2 separate regions of the Homo sapiens genome follow, and region 2 is linked to region 1. Evidence: fine-mapped expression QTL. A gene starts in region 1. The other region holds a variant in brackets. All regions are shown on one strand. Distances are from middle to middle.

Region 1 (2,890 bases):
CTCCCGGACACTGGCACCTACCCTCGGGGTGGCAGCTCCCAGATCCAGGCGTCAGGGAGGGCCCGAGAGCAGACACAGGCGACGCTGTGCCATCTTCTCATCCGCACCATCCCATCTGCCAAACATGGAGTGCCCACAGTCCCCCCCTGCCAGAGGATGGATGGCAAAGTGCTTTTGAAGAGGAGGAAGAGGGAAATAAGCCACACACACGGAAGCGAAAAATTACCGAGGAACACAGCCCCTCTCCCCCTCGCCCTTCGTGCCACCCCCATTAGTCCACCATTTTCCACACCGGGACACCCCCCGGCCACCTCCCGCGGGGCCCTCTCCCAGTCTGACAACGCCCCCAGCCCAGGCACTGAAAGGAAACCGATCATGAAAACCACCAGACTCTGTTCCCCAGCTGCGAAGAAGCTGCCAGCACTGGGAACCAGAGACAAGCCTTTGGCCTTCGTGTGCCTACCTTCTGCCCCCCGCCGGGAAGAAAAAGCACATCCCTCATCCCAGACAGAAGCTTAGAGGCAAGAGTGTCCAGAGGGCCAGGCAGGAGGCTGGGGACAGATGCAGCTGCTCAGGCTAGGACAGAGCTAGGGTGGGCTGCCTGGGGTGCAGGTGGGAGACCTTCTCTCACAACCCACCCCCAAGACAGCAGGCAGCCCAGAGGTCCAGCAGGTACAGACTCCCCTGCCACAAGGCCACAACAACAGCACAGACAGGAGCATCACACACACAAACACGCAGACACAAGCACACACAGACACAGAAGGCCAGAAGTGCAGACAGGCAGCTGCCCACATGCACAGGCACACACCTCACACACGGTCACACGGACTGGCAGTCACAGCCACACACACACGCCTGCACACACAGGCTCAAACGCGCACACACACACTTACACATAATCCCAGACACGCACACACATACATGGGAACCTGCGGACACAGAGACACACACATTCAACTGCAGTCACACTCATGCTATCCACCTCCCCACGGGCAGCCGGCGCAGACCTCCAGGATTCGCCAGCAGATTGTGCCCAGGGACAGTGGGGAAGGCTTACGGTCTCTGATGTCCCCACCAGGATCCTGCATCTCGACCTGCCAGGGCGTCAGCAGACCCAGCTCTCAGGCACAGCCCGAGCCCCTCTGTTCCCACGGCCGCCAATGCACTTAACAAGACTTCACTTCTAAGTTCTCTCCCATCATTCCCCCACCCTCCCACCTGTCACCCACCATCCGAAGCCCCCAAAGGAGACACTGCGCTTCCGGCCAAACATGGTTGTGGCTGCAGAGCCCGGGGTCCCAGCGATGTCCCAACGACGTCCCCGGGGCTGTCCGCAAGAGGGCCGTGGTACAGCGGGGTCAGTGCCGGTGCAGGGCGGGGAGCCCAGCGTGGCACCTCCCTCTTCGCCTGCCCCCAACCCGAGCTTCCTGTGGGTGAGGCTGCAGAGCTGGGAGGTGTGTCCTGCACTCCAGGAGGCACCAAGATAGGCCGAGGAGGTTGTGGAGGGCAGCTTCCCCACACCCAGAGGAACCCACAGCTCCGGAAGGGGCTCGGCTGGCAGATTGCTCCACAGCCCCAGTTAGCAGCCCGGCCCACACAGCCCCAGCTTCCTGGAACCCAAAGGCGCCCCAAGGATTCCCACAGCCACGCCTAGGAGGGACAGAAAGATTCAGCTGGAAGCCTCAGGGACGCCTGAGCACTGGGGACCTTCACACCCACTCCCGAGGGCTGCCTGAGACAGGGACCTTTGCCTGCCTGCCCCACCATGGCTCGGCACACGCCAGAGGAACCAGCCACACACATGTCATTCCACTAGCACACGTGGATGTAAGTATACATGCACACGCATGGGCACAGGGGCACGTGGGATGCACACATGGACACACACACGCCCAGGATACCCAGGTACACACAGATACATGCACGCAGACATACGTATCATTAGACACCTGTACACACCTGAGCACAGCGCGGCACACACGCTCCCGTGCACATCCACACACCACTTCACACAGGCATCAGTAGACACACCTGCACACGCTTCTCACATACTGACAAAGCCCCATTGGACACGTGCACAGACATGAACGCATACACATGTGCCCGCAGGCACTCATCCACATACTCAGACCACATCACACTGCAAGGGGCATTCGCATGTACACACACATGGGCACAGAGCTGTACCTGTCAGCCGCCCCCCACCCCCGCCGCCAAGTGTCTAGACAGAGGTCAGAGCAGTGGCATGCTTCACGCTGGCTGTGTGGGGTGGGGGGGCGGTACCCATGTGCGGGTGGATTTGTCTTCCCAGCTGAACCGCAGGGTTCGTCCTCATCTCTGCATGCTCAGGTGCTGGTCCTCATGCCACAGGGCTAGCGTGTCCTGCACGCATCCCAGTCTGCACACCACAGGGCCAGTGCTCATCTCTGCACGCACTGGTGCTGACCACACCTGGTACACAGCAGGCACTTACTAATGGCAGCCCCTCAAAGGGATGTGGCACGTACACTACAACAGACACTGGGGGGAGTGGGCACAGATAGGGCCCCAGGCCCCACCCTACCCCCAAGCAGTGGAGAAAGGGAAGAAAACGTCTCAAAAAAAAAAAAAGAAGAAGAAGAAAGGCCGGGTGTGGCGGCTCACACCTGTAATCCCAGCACTTTGGGAGGCCAACGCGGGTGGATCACCTGAGGTCAGGAGTTCGAGACCAGCCTGGCCAACATGGTGAAACCCCATCTCTACTAAAAATACAAAAATGAGCCAGGCATGATGGCAGGTACCTATAATCCCAGCTACTCTGGAGGCTGAGGCAGGAGAATCGTTTGAACCTGGGAGGCAGAGGTTGCAGTGAGCCAAGATCATGCTGTTGTACTCCAGCCTGTGCAAC
Region 2 (2,890 bases), 57 kb before region 1:
TACGTTCATACCTGTGGGCATATCCAGGGGCTGCTGGTCACCCCCAGGTGTCTCTGGTTCCACTGCCCGTGTCTTATAGGGTGCGGTATTAACCATTCCAAAACTCCTCTGGAAACTAGGATCCAGCAGGGTCACTGGAAGCTACCCCAAATCCTGATCCCGGCAACATCTCTGTGGGCAGTCAGCTTCCGCACTCCCCTCCCCCCATTGCTGGAGGCTCTGCCATGCACCCTAGCAGAACAGGGAGGCTTTGTGCCAACGACCTGCCTGGTAGCTCCTTGGGGTCTGGTGGATGTCAGACCTGCAGCTGCGGTTGCAGCCTAGAAAGCTTCCTCAGAACCTCCTTTGCCTACTCCAAACCCCACACCTCCCACCACACAGGTCGTCCAAAATGTCTCTGAAATAGCTAAAGAAAACTATTTTCAATATCCAGGAGCAAACGAAAGAACAAACGCCAGAAAGGCGAAGAGGCAAAGTCACCCTATGGCGGTGGGGCGAGAGGGTGGGTGGGGAGCGAACAACCTCCAAACTTGCTCCTCGCCTGCCGGCACCGAGCGCAGAGCAAGCGGATCTCGGCCAGGCAGGCACCTCGAGGGCTCAGCCAAGTTGCAGGAAGCAAATGGCAACACCGGCGCATGGAGCCGCCTGGGCTGGATCAATGGCATCCGCGGCTGCAGGCTTGGGGAACGGGGTCGCGGTCTGCAAAGGGTCTGGGGGCGACGGACTTGGGGTCCCTCCGTCAGGGATCCACCCCGATGCGCCCTCCCAGCGGCCCTCCGATTCCGCCAAGGTCCTGCCCAGGCTCCTCGCACCAGCCAGGGTCCGGGGCGAAGCTCCGAACTCGGTTCGCACGACGGTACCTGGAGAGGAGGCTTTTTTCTAACCAACACGGAACCAAACACCCATCGGAAAAGTCCACCCCAAAGAAAACTGGCATGCAGCAGGAGAGCGGAGGGAAGCGGCCGGCGCTGCAGGGGTTTACCTTTTCTCTTTATTCTGCCTCCGGGATTTGTGCAGGAGTCCGATGAGCACCACGGCGGCGCGGATCCCCGCCTTTCGGCAATGCCTCCTCCCCGCGGGCTGGGACATGGCGAGGCCGCCCGCGGTGCCCGACCTCGCCCGCCCGCGTCCCCGCAGCCCCGGCTCCGCGCGCTCCGCACCCGGCCCCTGAGCCCGCGCCCCGGCCCCCGGCCTCCGCCTCGCATGGGCCCCGCCCCGCCTAGGTGCGCCCCGGGGGTCAGGTGACCGCGCGCTCTCCCCTCCCTCCCGGCGACCTTCAGCGTCTCCTCGGGGCCCGCGGGGCAGCCGCCGTCCGCTCCCCCGGCGCGGGCATTTCCGAGGCTCGCTCGGGGCGCGGCCCGGGCCGGCGGCTCCCGGCTCCCGCTCAGACGCGCCGCCCGCGCCGGGACCCGCCCCGGCCCCGCCTCCCGCGCCCCGGCCTCGGCCGCCCGGATGGTGGAGGACGCGGGGCACAGGGAGCGGGCGAAGCGCAGGAGGAGGCGGACAGCGCTCCCGGGACCCC[C/T]CTGCCCGGCTCCCAGGCGCCCTCCCCGGCCCCGGCCCTGCCTCCCCTCGCCCGCTCCTTCTGGTCCCCGCCCGCACTCCCGCCGGCGGCCCCGAGCTCCCTCCCCAGGCAGAGGCGGCTGCCGCCCTCCCCGGCCCGGCCCCGGATACTTCCCCGATGCTGTCACTGCTTTTAAAACAGAGGGAGAGAAAACAGGCACCAAGAGGAAACGCGCGTCCTCCTCCGTCCAAACGAAACTGCCCGCGCGCGGTCCCCGTCCCCTCCCGGCCGCCCAGCGCTTACAGGGGGCACCTGAGCCCGGCGCCCGCCCCGGCTCGCAGCTCCCGGGCCCGGGTCCCCGGGTGGGAGCTTGCGGATGGGAGGAACGAGGCGGAATTCTGCCCCCGCCTCCCCGCAGAGTCGGCGCAAGGATCGCCGAGCTGGGATGCAGAGTGGGCTGGGGTCGGCTCCCCGCGAACACTGGCTCTCCCGGCCCTGGGAGTTTGACTCCACATGGGTTCAATAACCAACTTCACGGCGACCCCGCTTCCTCCTGGCGGGCCGGGCGCCCCCCACTCCGCCCTCCCCGCGCCCACCCGGGCCTGGCCGCTGCGCACTCGTCGCGTGGTCCCTCCCGCCCCTGCCAGCCGCGCGCGAGCCTCATCTCCTTCGGAAAGGAAGGGCGGAAGGTCGGAAGGTCGGAAGGTCGCGCCGGCTCCTGGGGAAAGGGCTGTGGCCTGGTCCCTACCATCGGCGCGGGGCCTCGCTCACAATCGCCCTCATCCACTTCCAGGTGCTGCCCAGCCTCCCAGCCCCCTCCCGCCTCACCCCTCCGAAGCATCACTCACAGCTTTGCCCCTCTAGGGAAAAGGAAGTGGGCAGGGGGCTGAAAGGAATTAGAACAAGCCAATTAGTCCATCTTTGGGGCCGAAGAGGTTCCCCCTGAGGCAATTTGCCTTGTTTTTTGTTGTTGTTTTGTTTTTTGTTTTGTTTTTAATAGTCTGGTGTTCAAGCAAACACAGAAAATCCAGGCAGGGAGGGGACCATGCTGGGTGGAGAGGGGAGAGGGACTGCAAACGAATTCGAGGGCCTGAGGCTTCAGCCCTGCCTCTCCAATGCCCACAGCTTCCTGCTGGCACTGGAGTTGGGGTGGAGGGGAGGAAGCCCCAGGGTGGTTCTTAAATGCACCTGGTCTATTTATGAAGCAGCCGTTACCACTGGCCTTGTGCCCCCCACCCCCACCCCCACCCCCTCCCTGCCGGGGTTGTGGGGGATCAGAGATATAGATAGCCATGGACATCTTTTTATAGCTAGAGATTTGAATGACCCGGGCCCCACTCCTGAGATTGGCGGTTAGGCAGGCTGCAAGTACTATGCCAGTAGTGACTT

Evidence for each region.
Region 2: its variant is fine-mapped to the expression of RAP1GAP2 in tibial artery (GTEx, PIP 0.97).

Annotation. Positions count from the first base shown.
Region 1 is chr17:2,794,914-2,797,803 of GRCh38, reverse strand. RAP1GAP2 (RAP1 GTPase activating protein 2) reads right to left here and starts at 1,366. Exons shown (of 25, transcript NM_015085.5): 1 at 1,233-1,366. The coding sequence starts at 1,276.
Region 2 is chr17:2,852,195-2,855,084 of GRCh38, reverse strand. All of the region lies in intron 2 of RAP1GAP2 (RAP1 GTPase activating protein 2), which reads right to left. Among named protein-coding and RNA genes, the nearest start is that of RAP1GAP2, 57 kb to the right of the region's middle. The variant C/T (reference allele first, on the strand shown) is at 1,523.